Regions from separate parts of the Homo sapiens genome. Here region 1 is linked to region 2. Evidence: fine-mapped expression QTL. A gene starts in region 2. The other region holds a variant in brackets. All regions are shown on one strand. Distances are from middle to middle.

Region 1 (14,696 bases), 19 kb before region 2:
GGCCAGGCCCCTCTGCTCTCGGAGGCTGCCCTGGCGGGTGGGGACAGCTGGCCAGCCTGGAGCTGGCCCAAATACCTTCTCTCTTCCAGCGTCCTTCGACCTGAAGCAGCAGCTGCTGCTCAACAAGCTCATGGGGAAAGATGAGAGCACCTCACGGAACCGCCGCTCGCTGAGCCCTATCCTGCCCGGCAGACACAGTCCTGCGCCCCCACCAGGTGAGCCCCCACCCCCTGACATGAGCCCAGTCCCAGGGCAGCGGGGCTGCGGCACCACCCGGCGACTGCTCAGTCTGAACCCTCTCTCTGTTCCAGACCCTGGCTTCCCCGCCCCGAGCCCACCGCCAGCTGACAGCCCCTCCGAGGGCTTCTCTCTCAAGGCCGGGGGCACAGCCCTCCTGCCCGGGCCCCCAGCTCCCTCGCCACTGCCGGCCACACCACTCAGCGCCAAGGAGGACGCCAGCAAAGAAGACGTCATCTTCTTCTAAAAGGGCCGTGACTCAAGGTGCAAGGCCCCTCCCTGCCCTGCCCACCCTTCCTGCTCTCTGGGGACCCCCATGGGGTCACCATGCCCACCCAGCTGTCCCCTCCTCTTCCCTAGCAAACCACTGATGACCGCCTGGCAGGGGCCAGCCTGTCGGTGCTCTGGGCCTTGCAGCTGTTTCTGTAGGGTTAGCGGTGGTGCCGGGGTCACTTTCTGAATCTCTTTTTTTTTTTTTCAAAAAGGAAAGTTTTTAATGGAAAGTTGAGCCAGAACTAAACCAGGGAGCTGTCTGAAATCATAGCACCCCATCCGGGTGGCGGGGAGATCAACTCCGAGCTGTTTTTCCGAGGCAGTGAGGAACGGTGCCGGCTCTGCACGGAGCTGAGGACAGGACAGACCTTGCTTTGAGAAGGAGCTGCCGGCCGGGGCCACGCTCCACAGCCGCCGCGCGACAGTGGAGCCAAGGGTTAGGGCACCAGGAGGGGCCAGGTGGCGTCGGCAGCATCTGTCCCCAGAATCAGGCAGAATCCACTTCCCAAACAGAGCCCCACGCAGGTTCACCATGAACCTCAGGGTCAGGGAATGAGCCAGGCACGGGGGCATGGGCAGAGAGGGCCACGGGGCAGGGCCCACTGAGGGAACATCAGTGGCCCTCCAGTCAGGTTCTGTGGGTTTGGAAGCCCATCGTGAAAGGGGCTGACCTTTGCCCCTTTTTACTTGGCATTGGTTTTGAAACCAGCTGTTTCCCAAACTCTGCTTCCCAAGGGCAACCGTTGCTGTTCACACGCTCAGCCTGTCTGGGGGAGCGGGCCTCTAGCTTCAGCCAGGGCGGGTACACACCCTGGGCACAGGGTCCTCAGCCCCCGGGAAATGAGCTCCCAGGGCTGGCGTCCCACCTTCCAGGTGGGGGCTGGCACATCACAGACTGTCGAGAGCGCCATGTCCCAGGGCATGCAGAGGATGCACCTAGAGACGTTGCAGCAAGTGGACAAGTGGCCGCTGTGCGGGCCCCTCGCTTGTAGTGAGCTGTTGCAGCTTACGGTCCGTTCCCTGGAGGGGTGGAGGAAGGAGGTGTTGGGCAGCATCAAAGGTGCTGGGACATCCCAGGGTGGTGAGATCCATCCACGATCCAGCTCCGGTGGAGAAAGGGCCCATGTCAAGCCTTGTTCTGCACCCCAAGCATTGGTGGTAGGACTGGGTCCTGGCTGATCGTCCTTGTTCCCAGTGGGGTACATGTGAGCCCCTGCCAGGGCCAAGTCCTTCTCCCGAACCCAGGGTCCTGGGAACTGCAGATCCCGGGGGGATTCAGCCCTTCTCCCACTGTGCTGGCAGAGGCACTCCTGTGACGCTGAATACAGTGAACAGGGACATTCCCGCCACTCGGGGACAGATGGGCACAAGGGAGGGGAAACTCCATCAGGAAGTGCTCCCCTGGGCAGAGGCGCCCACTGGGTGCTGTGGGCTCAGGAGGGGGCGGGGCAGGAGCTGGTGCCAACCGGGAACCAGAGCCCCACAGCCATACAGCCCATTGGTGACAAGGTCCTGAGAACACAGTGGCCAGGTGTCCCCAGGCTCCTGGCCCCTCCGACGACCTCAACTCTGCCCAGCCCGGTCCCTGGCCATCAGCGACGCTGTCCGCCCCCCGTCAGATCCCATGTGTGCCATGTTTATCATCAGTGTTTTGTATTTTTGTACTGAGTATCGGAGCACTTTACAGAAGCTGACTGTACATTCCTGTTCTGTTGTGAAGAGAACATTCCCAGACCCTGGCACCCTCCTGAGCCGGCGTGTGCCGGTCCAGCCCTCCGAGATGCCACAATTCCTTGGATGGGGGAGAAGTTCAAGGAATTTCTGCTCGGCCACGCGGTGGGAACCCCGCGTCCCCGCCATGTGGCAGAGGGGTCTCAGTCGTGCTAGGCATCGGGCGGCAGCGCCGACAGCCCTTCCCTCGCCAGTGCCCCTCGGCCACTCCTGGGTTGGAGCCCGATTTTATTTGTAAAGTTGACAGTCGAGCAAATGTTCCTATTTTCGTGGGATCTGCACACGTCTTTGTCAGTTGTGGTCATGATCTTAGTCACCTGCTAATTATTTTTACAATGATTACAACATTTCCTCACTGCGGGATATTTCTGACCCGCTTTAGAACTTAAGACCTGATTCTAGCAATAAACGTGTCCGAGATGAGCGGTGACTGGCGTGCACGTTCTTGGAGGTTTTATTTGAGGATTTTCTTCTGCCCAAACGTTGCTGCAGGAGTAGCAGGTTCTGTTGGGGGCTCCCCATGGCTCCTGCCCCTCAGCTCGCTCACCTGCCCTCCGTGTCCTGCTTAACGCTCTGAAGACCCCTTCAGGTCCAGTCCCCAGGAGTTGTTGGGGGTTTTGTTTTTGTTTTTGTTTCTGTTTTTTTGGTTTGTTTGTTTTTTTGAGACAGAGTCTTGCTCTGTCGCCCAGGCTGGAGACCAGTGGCAGGTTCTCAGCTCACTGCAACCTCTGCCTCCCGGGTTCAAGCACTTCTCCTGCCTCAGCCTCCTGAGTAGCTGGGATTACAGGTGTGCACCACCACGCCCAGCTAATTTTTGTATTTTTTTAGTAGACATGGGGTTTCGCCATGTTGGCGAGGCTGGTCTCGAACTCCTGACCTCAAGTGATCTGCCCGCCTCAGCCTCCCAAAGTGCTGGGATTACGGGCACAGGGCAGGAGTGGGGCGTGGAGGTGCCTGTGGAGGGTCCTGCCCACCGGGTACACTTCAGGCTTTGGTGGCGCCTCCACGAAAATCTTTTTGCTTTTAATCCACAATAACCGCAAAGGCTGGAACTTTCACTTCCTCCATCTGGGGTGAGAGGCAGCTTGGCCATGAGTATGAAATCATCATTTCCACCTGGTCTGAGTCCCGGTCCAGTGAGGCGAGGACCCTGCTGTTTCAACAGAGGGTTTCCCATCACAAGGGGACTAGGTGTAAAGTCGATCACTAGCTCACTAGGAAGCGCAAAAAGGGAACTCTCAGGCAGCACTGTCCACCAGGAAGATGATGCAGGCCACGTGTGGAATTTTTCATTTTTAGTAGCCATATTAAAAAAGTAAAAGGAGGGCCGGGCACAGTGGCTCATCCCTGTAATCCCAGCATTTTGGGGAGGCGGGGGCTGAGGCAGGAGGATAGCTTGAGCCCAGGAGTTCAAGACCAGCCTGGGCAACATAGTGAAACCCCTTCACAGAAAAATTAAAAAATTAGCCAGGTTGGCCGGGCGCAGTGGCTCACGCGTGTAATCCCAGCACTTTGGGAAGCCAAGGTGGGCAGATTACGAGGTCAGGAGATCGAGACCATCCTGGCTAACAAGGTGAAACCCCGTCTCAACTAAAAATACAGAAATTAGCCGGGCGTGGTGGCGGGCGCCTGTAGTCCCAGCTACTCGGGAGGCTGAAGCAGGAGAATGGCGTGAACCCAGGAGGCGGAGCTTGCGGTGAGCCGAGATTGCGCCACTGCACTCAGCCTAGGCAATAGAGCGAGACTCCGTCTCAAAAAAAAAAAAAAAAAAAAAAAAATTAGCCAGGTATGGTGGCGTGCACCTGTAATCCCAGCTACACAGGAGGCCAAGGCAGGAGGATTGCTTGAGCCTAGGGGTTCAAAGTTGCAGTGAGCTATGATCGTGCCACTGCACTCCAGCCTAGGCAACATGGTGAGACCCTGTCTATAAGAGCTTAAAAAAAAAAAAGGAAATTTGGGGGATAGAAAAAAGAAATGAAATTTAAAAAAAAAAGAAAAAAGGGCTGGACGCAGTGGCTCACGCCTGTAATCCCAGCACTTTGGGAGGCCGAGGCAGGCAGATCACCTGAGGTCCGGAGTTTGAGACCAGCCTGGCCAACATGTTGAAACCCCATCTCTACTAAAAACACAAAAATCAGCCGGGCGTGGTGGCAAACACCTGTAATTCCAGCTACTCTGGGGGCTGAGGCAAGAGAAGCGGTTGAACCCGGAGGCGGAGGTTGCAGTGAGCCGAGACTGCACGATTGCACTCCAGCCTGGGGGACAACAGTGAGACTTCGTCTCAAAAAAAAAAGAAAAAAAGGATGTAATTAATTTATTACATTTTTATTTATTTTTTTGACATGGAGTCTTGCTCTGTCACCCAGGCTGGAGTGCAGTGGCACGCTATCTTGACTCACTGCAACCGCCGCCTCCCAGGTTCAAGTAATTATCCTGCCTCAGCCTCCCGAGTAGCTGGGATTACAGGCACCCACCATCATGCCCGGCTAATTTTTGCATTTTTGTAGAGATGGGGTTTCACCATGTTGACCAGGCTGGTCTTGAACTCCTAATCTCAGGTGATCTGCCTGTCTCGGCCTCCCAAAGTGCTGGGATTACAGGCGTGAGCCACCGC[G/A]CCTGGTCTATTTTTTCTTCATTGTGGTCAAATGCACACAACATAAAACTGGCCAGTTGCTATTCTCCTGATGGTGGGCATTGGAGTGTGTGTGTGTGTGTGTGTGTGTGTGTGTCTCCCCCCACCCTCTGATTTGCTCCACCCCAACCCCAGCCGTCCTCTGACCTCTGCCTAGCTGACCCCTCCACTGGGATGCCCCCAGCCTTCCTCAGCACTCCTTATGGGCCCTGGGGGGCTTGGAGGCACCCTAAAATGAGATGTTCTGCAAAGAGGGCCTGTAGTGGCTGGGCACGGTGGCCCACGCCTATAATCCCAGCACTTTGGGAGGCCGAAGTGGGTGAATCACTTGAGCACAGGAGTTCAAGACCAGCCTGGGCAACGTGGTGAAACCCCGTTTCTACTAAAAATACAAAATTAGCCAGGCATGCTTGGGCGTGCCTGTAGTCCCAGCTACTCGGGAGGCTGAGGCAGAGAATTGCTTGAACCCAGGAGGCGGAGGTTGCAGTGAGCCGAGATCGCGCCACCGCACTCCAGCCTAGGCGACAGAGTGACTCTGTCTCAAAAAAGAGGGCCCGTAGTCTTTAAGGTTCACAAAGGGGTCTGTTCCCAGCCCCTAAAAGGTTGAAAACCACTGGACCAGAATGGGCAACCCAGGGACAGAGTAGTGGTCACCAAGCCTGGGGGCTGCGGGTGGGTAACAGCTGAGGGGTGTGAGGTTTCTCTCTGGGGTGATGGAATGTTCTAAGGTTGACTGTGGCTCTGCTTGCACGACTGTGAATGTACTAAAAGCCACTGAACTGTCCCCCTTCTGTGGATAAATTTTATATGTGAATTATATTTCCATAAAACTGTTTAAACACACACACACACACACAACCACACACACACACAACCACTGGACCAGCTGAGAGAGTGGGAGAGCGGCCTCCCTTTCTGGAAGCATCCAACCTGTCTGCTCTGTGCCTGGGCTCCACATGGTCAGTGTCCAAGGCCTTCCCAGCCCAGGCTGTATCCCTGAAGGTGGCTTGCTTTTCCTCCTGGCACCTGTGACCAGGTGGTCATGTGGCTTCCCCACACAGAGGCGCTGCTCCAAGGGCCCCACTGGTATGAGCTAGTAAGTAGTTGGGTCTCCAGGTAGACAATGAGATGCCCTAATCATGCAGGTGCTGCTAGGGGCTGGGAAGGAGGCCTCTGCTGAGGGCCAGGACAGGCCTGCACCCCCGACAAGGGAAAGAAGGGGGAAACCCACCAAGCCTGGCCCACTCGTGAGTCCTGGGCAGAAGGAGCCCCCACAGATGGGGTCTCCCGCACCCGTGTGACCCTGAGCAGTCCCCGGCCTCCCAGCTGCTCAGAGCCACCTGGTATCTTCCTTGTAAAAAACAAACCACAAATGTACTCTGGGAGGCCGAGGCAGGCAGCTCACTTGAAGCCAGGAGTTCAAGACCAGCCTGGGCAATGTGGTGAGACCCTGTCTCTACAAAAAGTTTAAAAATTAGCTGGATTTGGTGATAAACACCTGTAGTTCCTGCTATTCAGGAGGCTGAGGTAGGAGGATCCCTTGAGCCCAGGAGTTTGAGGCTGCAGTGAGGCTATGATCGCACCACTGCACTCCAGCCTGGGTGACAGAGATCCTGGGTCAAAAAGATAAAAATCAAGGCAGTGCAATTGATATCACATGAGGCCCAAGGGCGCACACACACTGGCTGTTGTGTGTTCCTGGGCCAGGCTGTGCAACAATGTCTGCCAGAGGCCACATGTGCACAGACTCTGAAGGGTTGTTCTCAGCCAGCAGACTAAGCAGTGCCCTCATCCCATCCCACCACACATTGGCTGAGGTGGGAGCCCCAAGTATCTTCAGCGATGCCAGTGTGTGTTGCCCAGTCTCAGCCTGGAGCCCTTAAAATGCTCACAGTGGCCCTGCGTCGGCAGCACAGTGGCATGAGGCCACGCCCTCGGGTGGCCTGATGAGAGGTGGCGCCTCTGGCCTGTGTGCCCAGGACTCTGGGGAGTAGAGAACAGCCCTCAATGGCTGGAGGCCACTTGGGGTCCGTGGGCAACGCTTGCTCAAAGATGGAGAGGACCCACCGGGCTGAGGGCATTCCTGAAGGTGGGCTGGGGTAGTGTGGTTTCCAACTTTGGGTCCGTCCTGTGGAGGGTAAGGGGCCAGGAGCCAGCAGTGTAATAACCTTCACCCCTGAGCCAGGCGCCAGCACCACAATGTTTAATTGATTCCCGTTCCAGCTTTCTCAAGGCACGACAGGCCCCCTCTTCCTCATCTTGATTTGGATACAAGACGCCAGCTGGCAGGCAGGAGGTGCTGCTGAAGCCCTGCACGGCCCCTGAAAACTGTCACGGCTCAGGAGCTCCAGGCTGAGGCCTGGGGGACCTCGCATCAGTCCCTCCACCCACCCTGCCCATGGGTTTCACCACAGGCAGCTCCATGAGAGCCCCGGCCCCTGCCCTGGCGGCTTCTGCTTTGCGGGAAGGGCCCTCCGTGGGCTCTGGCTGTGTCCCTGTGCTCTTCCGGCAGTGTCAGGGGGTAGTGGCCTCGGCCTGGCCGCCGGCCCGGGCCGCCTGGTACATGCTGAGGATTGAGGAGATGGTGCCCATGAGGCCCACTAGCCACGGCGGGAAGCGGCCGGCCCACAGCACGCCCCGGGGCAGCCAGTGCACGGCGTTGGCCAGGTCGGCCAGGTTGCTGAGAAGTGACAGCGCCTCCGACTGCATCTGCGCCTCCATGGCCCTCCGCTTGCCCCGGGGCAGCGGGCTGTGGGGCAGAGAGGGGCCGCTTACACTCACGCTCACACCTGCCTGCCCTTCCCAAGCCCCTGAATGCCCTGTGTGGCCTGGCAGCCCTGAGCCCCTGCCTGTGAGTGGGAGGAGCTGGCAGGACTGAGGTGGCCTCCCTGACCATCCACAGAGACTGAGTCCCCATCACCCCCCCGACCCAAGCACGAACAGGGCAGGAACCCGGGTCCAAGTCCTCAAATCCACACCTCACTCCTCGTCCTGAACACCCAGAGATGGGGATTCCTTGTGAAAAACAGAAAGCACAAATGCACTTTGGGAGGTGTGGAGGGAAGGGGGAACCCCCAGGAGCGTGGCCTGTGCCTGCCCGGCCTTTCTTTATCAGGATGACACAGTGACGATAAGCCTGGCCAATATGGCGAGACCCCATCTCCACCAAAAAATAAAAAACAAAATTAGCCAGGCGTGCTGGCCCGTGCCTGTAGTCCCAGCTACTCGGGAAGCTGAAACAGGAGGATCAGTTGAGCCCAGGAGGCAGAGGCTGCAGTGAGCCAAGATGGCACCACTGTGCTCCAGCCTGGGCAACAGAGCAAGACCCTGTCTCAAAAAACAAAAAGAAAAAGCAACAGTAACAATGGCCATGGCCTTCGGGAAATTGATCATTCTCTCCTGCTGGGGGCGCAGCCATGAAGGCTCAGCCCTGGAGTCCCCGCTCAAGCAAGCCTCAGTTTCTCCATCTGTAAAAGGTACCGCCACCCACCAGAGGCTGTGATGACTCCCCCATGACCTGAGCACAACAGTCCCCAGCATGGGCCTGCACAGGGGTGGCTGCGAGCCGGGATCCCACGCCTGCTGGAGGGAGTGGGCCTCCCTGCTGGGTGATCACGGGCTCCTACCTGGTGAAGGGCGCCGTGGGGCTCCGCAGCCTCTGTCTCAGTTTCAGCAGCATCCACAGGGACCTGCAGCACCAGAGCCCGAGGGAGGATGCCCCGGCGGGGAGCAGGAGGGTTAGCTCCACAACGCTGGCCCCGGACATACAGTCTGGGACAGGTGCTGCATCTCGGATAAACGGCCTGCCCTCTCCCTGCCCCCACAGTCCCACACCCTCCTGGCTGTGCCTCATGCTCCCGGGGACTCATCTCTAACACGGCCCCGTCCCACCCGGGACATCGTCCTGCACTTCTGACGTGGCCATCCAGGGCCTGGCCCAGCCTCTGCAAACCACTGGCAAGTGCTCAAAGGAACATCAAGCCCCGTGAGGTGTTCACAGCCTGGCAGGGAGTCCTACACAGAAAAGGATGCCAAGAGGCCCGCAGTTGGACAGGCGTGGGGACGCCGTTTCCCCTCCGGGCCTCAGCTGCCTTGTCTGCTCTGTGTGGAAAGGTCCAAATCAGTGCCATGCCAGCACCCCCTGCACACACACCCCGGACATTGGCTGGACCTGTCTGGATGATCCCCTGGGCCCCCAGGGCTGGCATCTGCAGGCTGAGGAAGGGGCTACCCAGTGGGCAGCCTCTGTGCTCCCAGCAGGCTCTGCAGCCGTGCATGGCACCCACCCGGGCCAGTCCACCAGGCACCTGCACTCTCCAGCCTCGGCCGTGGGGTGTGCCGGGTTGTGACTGTGACAGAATGGGCAGGGCCTGGTCACAACTCCTCTGGCCACTGGGTACCCAGGGTGCAGGATGCAGGATAGCGCCAGTGGCACAGCAGGTGGGAGCCTCCTGGGGGGCTAGGGAAAAACACTGATTCCTGGGCTCCCCAGACCCACAGAATCAGAAGCTCTGGGCCAAGCGCGATGGCTCACACCTGTAATCCCGGGACTTTGGGAGGCCAAGGCCGGTGGATCACCTGAGGTCAGGAGTTCAAGACTAGCCTGGCCAACATGGTGAACCCCTGTCTCTACTAAAAATACAAAAATTAGCTGGGGGTGGTGGTGGGCGCCTGTAATCCCAGGTACTCGGGAGGCTGAGGCAGGAGAATCACTTGACCCCGGGAGGTGGAGGTTGCAGTAAGCCAAGATCGCACCACTGCACTCCAGCCTGGGCGACAGAGGAAGACTGTGTCTCAAGAAAAGAATCAGAAGCCCTGGGCGCCGGACCCAGGCATCTCCATTTAGCAACCTCCTGGCTGATGCTCCGGCAGCCCTGGGCCTTAGGGCAGATGTCTGGTCATGATGAGCACACATGGAATGCTCTCCACCCACTCCCCCTGCTCACTGCAAATCCAGAGAAATGATGAAAAACCACATGCCCGAAACAAGAATGCCGCAGCAGGCGGGGCACACAGGACTTCGATGGCCGTGAAACAATTCCATTTGATTCTGCAAGGGGGGACACGTGTCAGTGTCCAAACCCATAGGATGCCCAAAACCTAGCGTGAACCCTAACGTGAGCTACTCACTTGGGGTGATGATGGATCCATGGAGGGGCATCAGTTGTAACAAATGCACCATGTGGATGCTGCCAGTAGTCGGGGAGGCTGTGTGTGGGGGTATATGGGAGCTCTCTGAACGTTATGCTCAATTTTGCCATGAGCCTAAAACTGCTCTAAAAAAATAAAGTCTGGGCCGGGAGTGGTGGCTCACGCCTATAATTCCAGCACTTAGGGAGGCCAAGGCAAGTGGATCACCTGAGCCCAGGAGTTGGAGACCAGTCTGGGCAACATGGCAAAACCGTGTCTCTACAGAAAAAAAATTACAAAAATTAGCCAGATATGGTGGCACAGCCTGTGGTCCCAGCCACTCAGAAGGCTGAGGTGGGAGTATTGTTTGAGCCCAAGGGGCGGAGGTTGCAGTGGGTCAAGATTGAGCCACTGCTTTTCAGCCTGTCTCAAAAAAAAAAAAAAAGTTTATTTAAGCAAAAAAGAAAGGAACCAAGGCTGCCCCTAAAATACAAACCAGAGGTCACGAGGCACCCAGAGGAAGGTGGCGGAAGAGAGGCTGTGAGCCAAGGCCCCCCTCTGACCGGAGCCCCAGGAACATCCAGGCTGGGCCCAGGCACCCTCCCCCAGGTCTCCCAGCACACAGGGAAGGCCAGCAGCACAGACACCGCTGCCTCCAGGGGCCATGGCCATGAAACATGACCCTTTTGAGACAGCCAAAATGCACAGGCAGGGTATTAGGTCAAAGGCTGGAAAAGAACCACCCAAGCTTGAACAGTGGGAGTCTGGGTTGGATTGTGGGTAATTCGAATCTTCTACTCTGAGGTTTATCTATTTTCCAGATTGTCTACGGTAAGCATGTAATTAGGACATCTGTGCCGGGGGGAAAACAAGAACTACTGAGAGTCAGAGCCTCGACCAGGGACAAGCAAAGCTTCCCCCAGAAAAAGGACACAGCCTGCCTGAGGCTGGGGGCAGCCGCACCTCACCCCAGCGATCTAAGAGCCCTTCACAGCCACTGAAACATGGAGACCAGGGGGCCCAGCTCCTGCTGGTGTTTTCAGGGGCAGGGGATTCTGACTCAGCGCATTTGCAAAGAGGAAAATGTTTGGGAGGAAACCATTACTAGAAAGTTCTAGAAACTATATGGTTTTTTGGAGGCACAGAACTAGTCAGGAAACTGCTGACTGTTTTCTCTGGGGTGTCGGCTGACAGCAACGCCAGCAAGACTCAGGGACCCGGGTAAAGGCCACTCCGCTGGCTGCTTCTCACAGGCCCTGGAGTTACTTCTTCTTTCTAAGTGTGGTCAGCAGAGTCATGACCCCTTCTAAAATGTCCATGTCCTGAACCTGTCAACATGTTCACCTCCAAGGCAAAGGATATTTTGCCGATGGGATTAAGCTAAGGATTTTTTCTTTTTTTGACACGGAATCTTGCTCTGTCGCCAGGCTGGAGTGCAGGGGTGTGATCTCGGCTCACTGCAACCTCCACCTCCCCAAATTCAAGCAATCCTCCTGCCTCAGCCTCCCAAGTAGCTGGGATTACAAGTGTGCACCACCAAGCCCAGCTAATTTTTTGTATTTTTAGTAGAGACAGGGTTTCACCATGTTGGCCAGGCTGGTCTAGAACTCCTGGGCTCAAGTGATCCACCCGCCTTGGCCTCCCAAAGTGCTGGGATTACAGGCATGAGCCACCACGCCCAACCTAAGCTAAGGATCTTGAGATGGGGTATTACCCTGGATCATCCAGGTGGTCCCCATGTCATCATAGGGGTCCTTATAGGAGGGAGGAAGGAGGATGAGGGTCAGGGAAGGAGGTGTGACGCTGAAAGCAGAGGTCATGCTTGGAAGATGAAGGAAGGGGCCATGAGCCAAGGAATGTGGGTGGCCTCCAGAAGCTGGAAAATCCAAGGAAACGGACCTCCCCCTGGGACCTCCAGAAGGCATCAGCGCCTGCTGACACTAGCCCAGGGAGTGTTCTGACTTCCAGCCTTCAGAATCCTAAGATAAGAAGTTTCTGTTGCCCAGCACTACAGAGTTGTGCTAATTTGTTCCGACAGTTATTCTAAACAAATACACCCACAAAAGGAAGAAACAACAAAACCTCCAAGGAAAACTCTAAGAGGCAAAGACCCACCGCAGTCTGAAGCCTGTGCTGTTGCTGGGGCCGCTGCCACTTTGCTAAGGAGGCACCGCCCAGGGACCTTGGGTGCTCCCTTCTGGCCCATGCCACTTACCTGGCAACCCCCAGGAGCAGAGAGAGGGCCCACAGGGTTGTACTCAGCGTCCACCACCGAGAAGAGTCCACGTGGAGGACCCGGGCATCAGCCGCCCAGGCCACGTGCTCACAGGGGTAGTAGAGCTGGTCAGCCAGGTTCCCTAGGACGGAGACACAGCGGACAAAGGCGTCCTCCTCCTGCAGGACCAGGAGCAGAGGGGGCCTAGGGTCAGACTTACCCACTGCCCATTTTAGCACCGTAGCCATGCCAGGTGGCAGAGAGCTATTTCCTGACCCCAGTCCCTGGGCCGTGTCCAGGCCTGGCAGGCCCCGCGGGAGAAAGGCTCTGGGGCTGGGGTCCCCGCACAGGCCTGATTTCTGTGTCTCGGCAGCACGGTGCTCAGTGCCCCTTGGAGGGAGGCTCTCAACGCAGCTGTGCAGTGCAGTCCTCTGCAGAGCTTCAAAAACCCCATGCCCAATGCCAGCCGTGAGGATTCTGCCTCACTCAGCCTGGGGCAGGCCCCAGTACCGGGAATTTTCACAGGGAATTTTCACATTCCCAGGGGATTCCCAGGCCAAGTTGGGAGCCCTGTGTCAGAGCCTTCCTTCCCAAAGGCTTCCAGTTCCTGCACAGGTGGGGACCTCTGTTGCCAGACTCTATGCAGGGAGCATGAGGTGGCCCGCAGCGAACCCTGACCAGGCTGAGATGGTGTGCCAACCCTTGGGCCACCGCACGCCCACTGCTGACCACGCGCCAGGCACAGTGCGGCAAGGCTCATGGCCTCCCTCAACTCCGAGCAAGTTACAGACGGCCACGCTGAGGCTCTCAGGGAAAGCCGCTGGCCCCCAGTTCCGGCAGGGATGGGCCTCCAGGCCCTCGAATTGCAATGCACACGCGGGCTCTCGGTCCTGCACAGTGCCCATACCCTCTGCCCCAAGTTCTTAATCACACGGCCTAGAGCCAGCGAGGCAGGACCAGTTGAGGCTGTAGAAACCAGCGCTGAAGCCTGGTTTCTGGGACTGGAGCCCCGCAGCCAACCGGGGGACCCGCCCCCTTGGGACCCCACCCCCCTTGGGACCCCGCCCACCGTGACCCCGCCCCATCGGAGCCCCGCCCCCTCTACCTTTATCCTCCTTGTTACCTGCCACACCCTTCCCCTCCTCTCTGACTTCCCAGGAAGCTCCTCCCCGCCCCCACCGCTGATTCCAGATGCTGCTCTCCTTCTTTCTGGCCAGTCATGATCCTACCTCCCTCCGGGCTCTGAACCTCACTCCAGCTTCCCTCATCTGCCTGGCGCGTCCTGGCACATTGCCCACCTCCCTGAGGATGGCGGACCCCGCCCCAATGTGCTCATTCCGCCCGGATTTCCTGAGAAGCGGCAGGGTCCAGGCTAGACTCTGGGGAGGGGCAGAGGCTCACCAGGGCAGGGAGGAACGCAGACATATAAACCGGGAACCCAACAAACAGGGCTCTTGTTCTGGCCAAGGGACACTCGAGGTGCAAGGGCCTCCACCCCTTGCCTGAGGGCTCTTCCACAGAGGGCATAGAGGAACGAGGGGTCTCAGGGATGCACCAGAGCGCTGTCCTAATCAGACACGGAGGAGGAGGATGCTATAGGTGTCAAAACAGGAAGGCGGCCCACAGCAACACTTATGATATAGGATGATCAGGCCAAGGACACGTGGTGCTGAACACGGTGGGGTTGGGATTTCGGGGCGGGGAGCACCTGAGTAGCAAGTGGCTCAGAGAGGTGATCCCTGGGAGGACAGAGAGAACAGACAGGGCAGCCCAGGGAGGGGCAGGACGCTGAGAGGCTGGCCCACGCAGCCTCTGAGATCATCCCGTGGGGGGCAAGATGGCTCTCTAGATAGGCTGGCACGCCTGTGGGACGCCGCAGGGACAAGGCTACTCTCTGCAGCACTGTCGCAATAGCAAAACCTTAGAAATCATTGCCCTGTGCGTCAACCAGAGGCCAATTAAATAAATCCGAAGCTGCATAGCAGAGCACTATGTGGTCCTGAGAACGCAGCTCTTTCTAGACCGATAAGAAATGATCTGTGGCCAGGCGCGGTGGCTCACGCCTGTCATCCTAGCACTTTGGGAGGCGGGGCAGGTGGATCACTTGAGCCCAGGAGTTCAAGGCCAGCCTGGGTAACATGGCAAAACCCTGTCTCTACAAAAGATACAAAAAATTAACCAGGTGTGGTGGTGCACCTGCAGTCCCAGCTATTCCGGAGGCTGAGGTAGGAGGATCACCTGAGCCCGGGAAGTCAAGGCTGCAGCGAGCCATGATCACGCCACTGTACTCCAGGCTGAGTGACAGAGTGAGACCCTGTCTCCAAAAAAAAAGAAAGATAAAGAAATGATGCCGAAGCTGTACCGTTAAGTGAAAAAAGCACTGTTTATGTAAACCATATGTATTTGCCTATGCGAGTACAGGAAATCTCACAAAGGAGACACAAGAAGCTGACCACAGGGCCGGGCACGGTGGCGCAC
Region 2 (12,118 bases):
TGCAGTAGCGCCATCTCTGCTCACTGCGTCCTCCGCTTCCCTGGTTCAAGCGATTCTCGTGCCTCAGCTTCCCAAGTAGCTGGGATCACAGCTGTGCACCACTGTGCCCGGCTAATTTTTGTATTTTTGGTAGAGTCGGGGTTTCACCACGTTGGCCAGGCTGTTCTCAAATTCCTGGCCTCAAGTGATCCGCCCGCCTCGGCCTCCCAAAGTGCTGGGATTACAAGCGTGAGCCACCGCACCCGGCCTCAATGTCCTTTTCCTTCGTCTTGTCACTTCTCCAAAAATTTGCTGCTATATGTTGAAGGTGCTATATAAGCAGGAGTTATATAAGCTATATAAGCCACCTCATTTCTCTTGGCATCTCCCATGTACACATAAGGTACACATGTTAATAAATTTGTTTTTCCCTTGTTAATTTTTTTTTTTTAGACGGAGCCTCGCTCTGTCGCCCAGGCTGGAGTGCAGTGGCACGATCTCGGCTCACTGCAAGCTCCGCCTCGCGGGTTCACGCCATTCTTCTGCCTCAGCCTCCCGAGTAGCTGGCACTACTACAGGCGCCCGCCACCACGCCTGGGTAATTTTTTTTTTTTTTTTTTTTTTGTATTTTTAGTAGAGACGGGGTTTCACCGTGTTAGCCAGGATGGTCTTGATCTCCTGACCTCGTGATCCGCCCGTCTCTGCCTCCCAAAGTGCTAGGATTACAGGCGTGAGCCACCGCGCCTGGCCTCTATTTTTTTTTTTTTTTTTTTTTTTTTTTTTTGAGACAGGGCCTCGCTCTGGGAGGAACCAAATTTGTAGATGTGAAGCCGCCACTTGTGTGCTCTCTGGGCCTGAGGACCCAGGATGATGCCCAGAGCTTGCTACATTCTGCCCCATGGTAGCTTGACCAACTACCCACAAAAAAGGGGTAGAGTGCAGCGGCACGATCTTAACTCACTGCAGCCTTGAACTCCTGGGATCAAGCCATCCTGCCACCTCAGCATCCTGAGTAGGTGGGACCACAGGTGCCTGCCACCACAATTGGCTAATTTCTTTTTATTTTTTATTTTTTGTAGAAATGGAGTCTTACCATGTTACCCAGGCTGGCCTTGAGCCCTGGGCTTAAGCAATCTTCCCACGTCGACCTTCCAAAGTGCTGGAATTACAGGCGTGAACCACCGCACCCGCCCTTCTTAATTCTTTCATTGCAAGGATCCATCACAGCTAAGAACTAAGAATAAAGGAAAAAGTATGTTTCCTCCCCTACACCCTGTTCCCATAAAGCAATCACTCAATTCCTCCCTCCTCCCAGCCCCTGGCAACCACTAATCTGCATTCTCTGCTGTCTCTCTGTATTTTTACCACTTCTTGATTTTTTTTTTTTTTTTTTTTTTTTGAGACAGAGTCTCACTCTGTCACCCAGACTGGAGTGCAGTGGCATGATCTCAGCTCACGGCAGCCTCCGCCTCCCAAGTTCAAGCAATTCTCCTGCCTCGGCCTCCCAAGTGGCTGAGAGTACAGGTGCGCACCACCACACCCGGCTAATTTTTGTATTTGTAGTAGAGATGGATTTTACCATGTTGGCCAGGCTGGTCTTGAACTCTTGACCTCAAGGGATCTGCCTGCCTCGACCTCCCAAAGTGCTGGGATTACAGGCATGAGCCACCATGCCCGACCTCCTTGATATTTCATACAAATGGAATCATACAATATGTGACCATTTGTGTCGGCCTCTTCCACCAAGCATAATAGGTTGTTTTGGTTTTTGCTTTTTGTTTTTGAGACAGGGTCTTGCTGTGTCACCAGGCTGGAGTGCGGTGGTGTGATCATAGCTCACTGCAGCCTTGAACTCCTGGGCCTGAGAGATCCTCCTGCCTCAGCCTCCACATTGCCTGGGACTACAGGTGCACGCCACCACATCTGGCCAATTTTTAAAATTTTTCTTTTGTAGAGATGCGGTCTCGCTATGTTCACCAGGCTGGTTTCGACCTCCTGGACTCAAGGGATCCTCCTGCCTTGGCCTCCCAAAGTGCTGGGATTACAGGTGTGAGCCACTGCGTGCAGCTGAGCATAATGGTGTTGAGGTTTGTCTAAGTTGCAGCATGTATCAGAAATTCATTCCACTTGCAGCTATATAACATTGCGCCATATGGATGGACCACATTTTGTTTATCCACGTATCAGCTGATGGTCATTTGGGCTGTTTCTGCCTTTTAGCGATCGTGAATAAGTACAGCTATAAACATTTGTGAATATGTAGTTGGAGTCCCTGGATTCCATTCCTTTGGGTCTATACCTAGAAGTGGGGTTGCTGGGTCATTTTGTAACTCTATGTTGAACTTTTTGAGTAATTGCCCAACTGTTTCCCACAGTAGCAGTACCATTTTCCATCCCCACCAGCATTACACAAAGGTTCCAATTTCGCCACTTCCTTGCAACATCCTTTTTTGATTATGATAGCCATCGTAGTAGGTGTGACGTGCCACCCCATTGTGGTTTTGTTTTGCCTTTTCCTGATGACTAATGATGTCAACGAGTCTGTTTGTTGGTTTGTTTGAATTTTTTTTTTTGAGACAGAGTGTCACTCTATTGCCTAGGCTGGAGTGCAGTGCTGATCTCAGCTCACTGCAACCTCCACCTCCCAGGTTCAAGCGATTCTCATGCCTCAGCCTCCCAAATAGCTGGGATTACAGCACACCCGCCACTGTGCCCGGCTAATTTTAGACTTTTAGTAGAGACGGGGTTTCGCCATGTTGGCCAGGCTGGTCTCCAACTCCTGATCTCAAGAAATCTGCCCACCTCGGCCTCCCAAAGTGCTGGGATTATAGGCGTGAGTCACCGCGTCTGGCCTCGATGTTAACCAGTTTTCTTTCACAGAATATTTCCTCTTGATTTCAACTCTTGTTACTCTTCTCCTGCATTGCTTTCCTCCTGTTGTTTAAAGTTACAGCAGATTCCTGCCTCAGGAACTTTGCATGTTCTGTTTCCTCTGCAGAAATGTTCTTGAGCCAGATACCAACGTGGCTCCCTCCTTCCCTAACTTCCTTTACTCGAATGTCATCCTCTCACGGGACCCACCCGATCACACCCTCCTGGACACTTCCTACCCATGTTACCTGCTGGTGACCTGTCTTGTTCATGGCTATATCCGCACAGCCTGGCAGAAAACAGAGAATCTGTTTTGTAAGTTTCACTGCCCTGTCCAAAGATCTCTTCTTGTGCTCCAAGGGAGCATGGAACACAAGGGGGCACAAGAAAGGCCTTGTCCACTCCTGTGATTTTCTTCCTCTCTGTCTCTCTCTCTTTCTGTTTTTGTTTTTAAACAGAGTCTCACTCGGTTGCCCAGGCTGGAGTGCAGTGGCATGATTTCGGCTCACTGCCATCTCCACCTCCCGGGTTCAAGCAATTCTCCTGCCTCAGCCTCCCAACCAGCTGGGATTACAGGCACCTGCTACCACGCCCCCACTAATTTTTGGAGTTTTTAATAGAAATAGGGTCTCACCATGTTGGCCAGGCTGGTCTCAAACTCCTGGGCTCAAGTGATCCACCCACTTCGGCCTCCCAAACTGCTGGGATTACAGGCATGGGCCACCATGCCCAGCCTCTTTTTTTTTTCTTCTTGTTTGTTTTTGAGACAGGGTCTCGCTCTGTTGCCCAGGCTGGAGTGCAGTGGCATGATCATAGCACCACTGCTGCATTGAACTCCTGGGTTCAAGTGATCCTCCATCCTCAGCCTCCCATAGCACTGGGATTACAGGTGTGTGCCACCACACCTGGCCCCAAGAGACTCTTTAACTTCCACATCCAGCTCCTTTTAAGACTTGGGTCCACTGGCTGAGCTCAGTGACTCACACCTGTAATCCCAATACTTTGGGAGGCCAAGGCAGGTGGATCACTTGAGGTCAGGAGTTGGAGACCAGCCTGGCCAATATGGTGAAACCCCGTCTCAAAAAAAAAAAAAAGACTTGGGTCCACGGGTCTTTGTGCACTCCCCTCTCCCCCAGTGGGGGGGTCACTCTTTTTTTTTTTTTTTAGAGTCAGAGTCTCGCTCTGTCACCCAGGCTGGAATACAGTGGTATGATCTTAGCTCACTGCAACCTCTGCCTCTGGGTTCAAGTGATTCTCCTGCCTCAGCCTCCCAAGTAGCTAGGATTACAGGCACCCACCACCACGCCCAGCTAATTTTTGTATTTTTAGTAGAGATGGGGTTTTGCCCTGTTGGCCAGGCTGGTCTCGAACTCCTGACCTTGGGGAATCCTCCCATCTCAGCCTCCTAAAGTGCTGGGATTACAGGCATGAGCCACTGCGCCCAGCCACGGGGTCACTGTTTTCACAGCAGAAAAATTGAAGCCAAGCCAGCTGCAGTGGCCTGTGCCTGTGGTCCCAGCTACTCAGGAGTCTGAGGCACGAGAATCGATTGAATCCAGGAGGTGGAGGTTGCAGTGAACCGAGATCACGCCACTGCACTCCAGCCTGGGCGTCAGCAAGACCCATCTCTAAAAAAGTAAAACAAAAAAAAATCCAAAGCCAAGGTCCAGACATGCAGAGGAAAGAGGTCACTGGCCGCAAAGCCTGCTGCTGCATGAATAAGCAGATCCCTCCTCTCAGGCCCAAGAGCCTTGGAACAGCGCAATGCATTTGCCCGAATGCTTCCTGTGTGCCGGGTCCCGCTCTAGGCAACAGAGATACAGCAGTGAGCTTTGCAGACACAGCCCAGCCCTCCCAGCGTCCCCCATCTGGCTAGGTCTGAGCTCGACCTTTGAAAAAGACACAGGAGCTGGCCTGGTGTTCACAGCTGGCCTTGGTGTTGCTAGGAGCTGGCCTGGCAGTCAAAGCAGGGCCCTGGTGTCCTCCTGCTGGACATAAACAATCTCACATGACGCCGACATCAGACAAGGCCACTCTGTGACCGCGGCAGAGCAAGACAAAACAAGCCTGCTCCATAATCATGTCTGAACACAGGCAAAACACGAACACTGTCCACACTATCAGAGTAACTGGACCTCCTCTGCTACTAGCTAATACCAGCAACGGCTGTTCCTTACCAAGCACAGCTTTAGTCTTCTGACTTCTTTCTTTCTTTCTTTCCTTCCTTCCTTCCCTCCTTCCCCTCCCTCCCTCCTTCCTTCCTTCTTCCTTCCTTTCCCTCCCTCCCTGCTTCCTTCCCTCCTTCTCTCCCTCCCTCCTTCCCTCCTTCTTTCCTTCTTCCTTCCTTTCCCTCCCTTCCTCCCTCCTTCCTTCCCTTCGTCCTTCCTTCCTTCCTTCCAGCTCCCAGCTTCCCTGGAGCTCTAAGGAGGCAGGATTTGCACAAAAAACAAAACCGTGCCCCCAAAACACCTAACAGAACTGCAGATCCCAAATCCCTCCCTCCCTCCCTCCCTCGCTCCCTCCCTTCCTTCCTTCCCTCCCTCTCTCCTTCCTTCCTTCTGACTTCTTCATACAGATGATTAAGATGCTGAATAATAGTTACTTCTCTCCCTAGCTGCTCTTTTGTTTTGTGTTGTTTCTGAGACAGAGTCTCACTCTGTCACCCAGGCTGGAGTGCAGTGGCGGAATCATAGCTCACTGCACCCTCACTGCAACCTCAATGTCCTGGGTTCAAGAAATCTTCCCACCTTAGCCTCCCAAGTAGCTGGGACTATAGGCACGCGCCACCGCACCTGGCTTTTTAATTTTTTATAGAGATAGGGTCTCACTGTGTTGCCCAGGCTGGTCTCAAACACCTGGGCTCAAGCAGTCCTCCCGCTTCAGCCTCTCAAAGTGATGGGATTACAGGCCTGAGGCACTGCACTCAGCCGCCCTTGCTTCTTTTTTTTTTTTTGAGACAGAGTTTTGCTCTGTGGCCCAAGCTGGAGTGCAGTGGCACGATCTCAGTTCACTGCAACCTCCACCACCTGGGTTCAAGCGATTCTCCTGCCTCAGCCTCCTGAGTAGCTGGGATTACAGGTGCCCGCCACCATGCCCAGCTAGTTTTTTTTTTCTTTGAGACAGAGTTTTGCTCTTGTCTCCCAGGCTGGAGTGCAATGGCGTGATCTCAGCTCACTGCAACCTCCGCCTCCTGGGTTCACGCAATTCTCCTGCCTCAGGCTCCTGAGTAGCTGGGAATACAGGTGCCCGCCACCACACCCGGCTATTTTTTATATTTTTAGTAGAGACAGGGTTTCACCATGTTGGCCAGGCTGGCCTCGAACTCCTGACCAAAGGAGATCCGCCTGCCTCAGCCTCCTGAGTAGCGGGGATTACAGGCGTGAGCCACCACGCCCGGCTAATTTTTGTATTTTCAGTAGAGACAGGGTTTCACCGTGTTCGCCAGGCTGGTCTCAAACTCCTGACCTCAAGTGATCCACCCACCTTGGCCTCCCAAAGTGCTGGGATTACAGGCGTGAGCCACCACACCAAGCCACAACAGCCCTTTTCTGGACGCTACTTTGGGAGGCTGAGATTACAAATGTGAGCCACCATGCCTCACCTGTGTGTTGTTTTTATTTGTTTTTATCTGCTCATCTCAAAAAAGAAAGTAAAATTTCCAACCAATAAATTCATCCCACCCAAATCCCCTACTTCCTTAAGCTGTGCCCCCAAAACACCGAGCAGAATTGCAAATCCCATAATAAGTGCTTTCTGGCCGGGCGTGGTGGCTCACGCCTATAATCCCAGCACTTCGGGAGACTGAAGCGAGCGGATCACCCGAGGTCGGCAATTCGAAACCAGCCTGACCAACATGGAAAAACCCCATCTCTACTAAAAATACAAAATTAGCTGGGTGTGGTGGCACATGCCTATAATCCCAGCTACTCGGGAGCCTGAGGCAGGAGAATCACTTGAAGCCGGAGGTTGCGATGAGCTGAGATCGTGCCACTGCACCCCAGCCTGGGCAACAAGAGCGAAACTCCATCTCAAATAAATAAATAAATAAATAAATAGCGAAAAAAAGTTCTTTCTAACACCTCCCTACTGAGACCGCCATAGTGCCCTATGACATGTATGAGCTCTCTCTCCCTCTCTCTTTCTTTCTCTCTCTCTCTCTGATGAATAATAAGCTTGAATGTGTTCAATCACAGGTACATTCCTGGTGGTCTTTGACTGGGGAAGGAGGGGTGACCGGCCCCTTTAAAGGGAGATCTGTGAGCCCTAGAATAATATCAAGAGGTGCAGTGATTCAGGGAAGTGGGTCCATTCTGTGTGGGGTGTGTAGAAGGTAGAGGGACAGAAAAACTTTAGAGGATGATAATAATAATGGACACCAGCAGCCTATTTAATCAAATCCTCAATACTGACACTGCTTTCTGAACTGGCTACCATCATTAGTCCCCTTTTGCAGATGACAAAACCTAAGTCCTAGCCAGGCATGGTGGCACACACCTGTGGACCCACCCACTTGGGAGGCTGAGGCGAGAGGATCGCTTGAGCCCAGGACTTCAAGTCCAGCCTGGGCAACATAGCGAGAGCTTACCTCAAAAACAAAACCAACCGAACAAAACCCCAGAGGCTCCAAAAAGTCAATTACTTGCCTGGGTTCCTGGAGCTCTAAGGAGGCAGTATTCGCACCAAGCCTGCCTGCTAATTTTCCTCCCGGCTGCCCCTAGAGGTGCTGAGTGGTCATTGTGACAGTATCATTACACAAAGGAAGCTCTTGGGGTCACAATGCGCAGGGCTGGACCACCCTTGGATGCAGCCTGGGAAGGAACATGAGGATCCTCTGAGAGACCAGGGACAGAGGGAGACCCAAAGATCTGGTCTGTAGCTAAGTGAATTTTCTAAAACTCATTGATTCACACGCCATCCCTTGAGGTAGGTGCACTGTCCTCGTCCCTGATGTACAGAGGTGAAAACTGAGGCTCATGGGAGCTTAATGACTTATTCCAAGATTACCTGGCTAGTAGTCTCAGTTGTTGGATTCTCTGATGACCCATTTTGGAGGTCATATTCAACTCTCAACTATTGCAGGGGGCAAATGATTCAAAAAGCAGCAAACTCAGCCAGGCGCGGTGGCTCATGCCTGTAATCCCAGCATTTTGGGAGGCCGAGGAGGGTGGATCACCTGAGGCTAGGAGTTCGAGACCAGGCTGGCCAACATGGCGAAACCCCGTCTCTACTAAAAATACAAAAATTGGCCGGGCGTGGTGGCGGACACCTACAGTCCCAGCTACTCTGGAGGCTGAGGTGGGAGAATCGCTTGAATCCAGGAGGAAGAGGTTGCAGTGAGCTGAGAAAAAAAAAAAAGCAACAAACTTACACACTGAAAAACTGTGGTTTCATTAAAACACACACACACACATACACACACACACACACACACACACACACACCCTTCATCCATGTTTTCTTTCTATTTTTGTGATGGGGTTTCGCTCTGTCACCCAGGCTGGAGTGCGGTAGCGTGGTCTCGGATCACTGCAACCTCTGCCACCCAGGTTCAAGCGGTTCTCCCGCCTCAGCCTTCTGAGTAGCTGGGATGACAGGTGCATACTACCATGCCCAGCTAATTTTTGTATTTTTTTCTTTTTTTTTTTTTTTTTTTTGAGACAGAGTTTCGCTCTTGTTGCCCAGGCTGGAGTGCAATGGCGCAATCTTGGCTCACCACGACTTCTGCCTCCTGGGTTCAAGCTATTCTCCTGCCTCAGCCTCTGGAGTAGCTGGGATTACAGGCATGCGCCACCACGCCTGACTAATTTTGTATTTTTAGTAGAGATGGGGTTTCTCCATGTTGGTCAGGCTGGTCTTGAACTCCGACCTCAGGAGATCTGCCCACCTCGGCCTCCCAAAGTGCTGGGATTATAGGCCTGAGCCACTGCACCCGTCTGATCCATGTTTTCTAAATAGGTAGAGGTAAGCAGGTTTTGTGGGTTGAAGTGATCTGGGAGGTCTTCCTGCAAGAGGTGAGCCTGAGAACTTGGAATGCTGGTCTCCAAGGGAGACAGAGAGGAGAGCATGGGAGACACTTGTGATCTAAGCAAAGGCAAGAAAGTCCCAGGTGACTGAGCAGAGGCGGAGGGTCAGGGGAGGCTTGGAGTCTGAAGCTGAAGGTCAGAGGAGAGAGCTAACTCTCAGAAGGTGTGAAGACAGGAAGAGATTGAGAATAGGCAGGACCTAGGACAACTGCAGAGCAGGGGAAAACCAGTAAGAAAGTGCGTGGCAGGCCGGGCACAGTGGCTCACACCTGTCATCCCAGCACTTTGGGAGGCCAAGGCAGACAGATCACTTGAGGTCAGGAGTTCGAGACCAGCCTGACCAATGTGGTGAAACCCCGTCTCTACCAAAAATACAAAACTTAGACGGGCATGGTGGCAGGTACCTGTTATCCCAGCTACTTGGGAGGCTGAGGCAGGAGAGTCAGTTGAATCCAGGAGGTGGAGGTTGCAGTGAGCTGAGATCGTGCCACTGTACTCCAGCCTGGGGGACAGAGTGAGACTCTGTCACAAAAAGAAAAGGAAAGAAAGAAAGAGAGAGAAGGTAGGGAAGTGAAAGGAGCGGAGGGGAGGGGGGAGGGGCGGGGGAGGGGGAGAGAAGGGAGAAAAAGTGTGGCAGAAACGGAGATGGCCAGTGGCTGGGGTGCAGGGCTGGAGTTAGGCAGAGGAACAAAAATGGGTCCCCCAGAGGGGAAGAAGGAGAAAACCGTGGCCTTGACAACTGACTGAGGGTGAGAAGACGCGGTTCTTGTATCAGACATACAGTAGAATGCAGTGGTTAATTCTCCAAGTTCTAGAATCAGAGTCGCCCTGGGTTCAAATCTCAAGCAAATGACCACCTCCCTGAGCCTCAATGTCTTTTGTGAAGCAGTGGTTAAAACCTACCCTTGGCCAGGCATGGTGGCTAACACCTGTAATCCCAGCACTTTGGGAGGCTGAGGCAGAAGGGTTGCTTGAGCCCAGGAGTTTGAGACCAGCCTGAGCAACATAGCCAGACCCCTGTCTCTAAAAAAAAAAATAGAAAGAATTAGCCATGCATGGTGGTGCACACCTATAGTCCCAGATGCTCAGAAGACTGAGGTGAGAGGACCGTTTGAGCCCAAGAGGTTGAGCCCACCACACTTGTCTAATTTGTGTGTGTGTGTGTGTGTGTGTGTGTGTGTGTGGAGACGGGGTCCCACTATATTGCCCAGGCTGGTCCTGAACTCCCGGGCTCAAGCAGTCCTCTTGCTCTGACCTCTCACTGTGCCTGGATACAGGTGTGAGTCACAGTACCCAGCTATTACCTTCTAACCTACTCTTCAATTTTTGTTGTTATATTTTTTATTATTGTCTGTCATCTCCCGCCCCATTATCAATTCCACAAAGGCAGGGATCTAGGTCTATTTTGTGAACTAATGTTAGTTCCCCACCCCTGCTGGCCTCCAGGCCTAGAGTAGGGACAGAAATCATTTATGTGGTGCCTACTGTGTGCCAGGCCTACAGTAGGCACCACATGAAAGATTTTTTTTTATGTTTTGAGACGGAGTCTCGCTCTGTCGTCCAGGCTGGAGTGCAATGGCACAATCTCGGCTCACTGCAACCTCTGCCTCCCGGGTTCAAGCGATTCTCCTGCCTCAGCCTCCCGAGTAGCTGGGACTACGGGCGCCCACCACCACTCCAGGCTAATTTTTTTTAAAAATTATTTTTAGTACAGACAGGGTTTCACCACGTTGGCCAGGCTGGTCTCGAACTCCTGACCTCAGGTGATCCACCGGCCTCGGCCTCCCAAAGTGCTGAGATTACAGGCGTGAGCCCCCGCGCCCAGCCATGATTATTTCTGTCTCTGCTCTCGCTGGGGGAAGGCACAGAAGCTGTACCAGTTTCCCGTGATGTCCCCAGCCTCCAGCTCAGTGCTTGGCGAACAGAAAGGAGTCAAAGGCAGCAGAAAGGAGTCAAAAGCAGGAGTCAAAGGCAAGTGCCCCAATGGGCACTTGCTCAGTCCCTCATCTCCACCCTCTCGCAGGTGGCTGGTGTCCCGCGATGGCCACAGGCGCCCTCCTGCCGTGCTCGCGCCCGTGCCCGATGTCCCGGCTGGACTTCCTCAAGGCCTCGCACTTCTCGCTGGGGCCTGACCTGCGGCTGCACGAGGGCACCATGCGCACCACGTCGCACCGGGACTTTGCCTACCCGGCTGCCACCCGGGAGCCGCCGAGCCTGCAGCCGCCGCCCGCGCTGCTTTTCCCAATGGACCCGCGCTGGGACCGGGAAGAGCGCGTGTCGGAGGCGCACCGCGCGTTCCCGCCGCCATCCACGCCGCCGTGGGAGCTGCTGCAAGCGCAGGCGCGGGAACGCACGCTCGCCATGCAGGCCGGCAACCTGCACCTGCACGAGGACGCGCACGCCGGGATCGGCCTCTCCAACGCGCACGCCGCCTACGGCTGGCCCGAGCTGCCGGCGCGCACCCGAGAGCGGATCCGCGGCGCGCGCCTCATCTTCGACCGCGACTCCCTGCCTCCTGGCGACCGCGACAAGTTGCGCATCCCGCCCACCACGCACCAGGCGCTCTTTCCACCCCACGACGCGCGCCCGCAGCCTCGCGCGCCCAGTTGCCACCTCGGTGAGCGCGCGCCCGGGCTGAGTGGGCGATTTGCTTCACATTGTGGTTCTCAAACAGGGGCAAGGGCTCTTCATTCCCCTTCCCCCAGGGAACATTTGGCAATGTCTGGAAACGCTTTTGGTGGTCAGGACTTGGGGGGTGGCCGGGCGCGGTGGCTCAAGCCTGTAACCTCAGCACTTTGGGAGTTGGAGGCGGGGGGATCGCTTGAGGTCAAGAGTTCGAGACCAGCCTGGCCAATATGGAGGAACCCCGCCTCTACTAAAATACAAAAATTAGTAGGGCGCGGTGAAGGGTGCCTGTAATCCCAGCTACTTGAGAGGCTGAGGCAGGAGAATCGCTTGAACCCAGGGGGCAGAGGTTGTGGTGAGCTGAGATTGTGCCACCGCATTCCAACCTGGGAGACAGAGCAAGGCTCCGTCTCAAAAAAAGGAAAGAAAGAAAGGAAGAAGAGAAAGAAGAAAGAGAGAGAGAGAGAGAGGAAGGAAGGAAGAAGGAAGGAAGGAAAACAAGACAGAGAGGAAGGGAGGGAGGGAGGGAGGAAGACTTGGGGGGTGGCGAGGCCACCCGCGGTGGCTCACGCCTGTAATCCCAGTGCTTTGGGAGGCCTAGGCAGGAGGATGTCTTGAGG

The links. PIP is the estimated chance that this variant, and not a neighbour inherited with it, causes the effect.
Region 1: its variant is fine-mapped to the expression of SAXO5 in spleen (GTEx, PIP 0.95).

The regions. Positions count from the first base shown.
Region 1 is chr19:7,469,815-7,484,510 of GRCh38, forward strand. ARHGEF18 (Rho/Rac guanine nucleotide exchange factor 18) reads left to right here. Exons shown (of 29, transcript NM_001367823.1): 28 at 90-215; 29 at 312-2,664. The coding sequence ends at 484. PEX11G (peroxisomal biogenesis factor 11 gamma) reads right to left here. Exons shown (of 5, transcript NM_080662.4): 3 at 12,219-12,397; 4 at 8,500-8,562; 5 at 7,061-7,622. The coding sequence ends at 7,388. Among named protein-coding and RNA genes, the nearest start is that of PEX11G, 12 kb to the right of the region's middle. RefSeq lists a silencer at 3,341-3,390 and enhancers at 7,032-7,667, 13,891-14,412. The variant G/A (reference allele first, on the strand shown) is at 4,856.
Region 2 is chr19:7,489,910-7,502,027 of GRCh38, forward strand. It overlaps SAXO5 (stabilizer of axonemal microtubules 5), which reads left to right and starts at 7,639. Exons shown (of 9, transcript NM_198534.3): 1 at 7,639-7,773; 2 at 10,897-11,490. The coding sequence starts at 10,914. It also overlaps a transcript of PEX11G not described here. RefSeq lists a silencer at 2,834-3,128.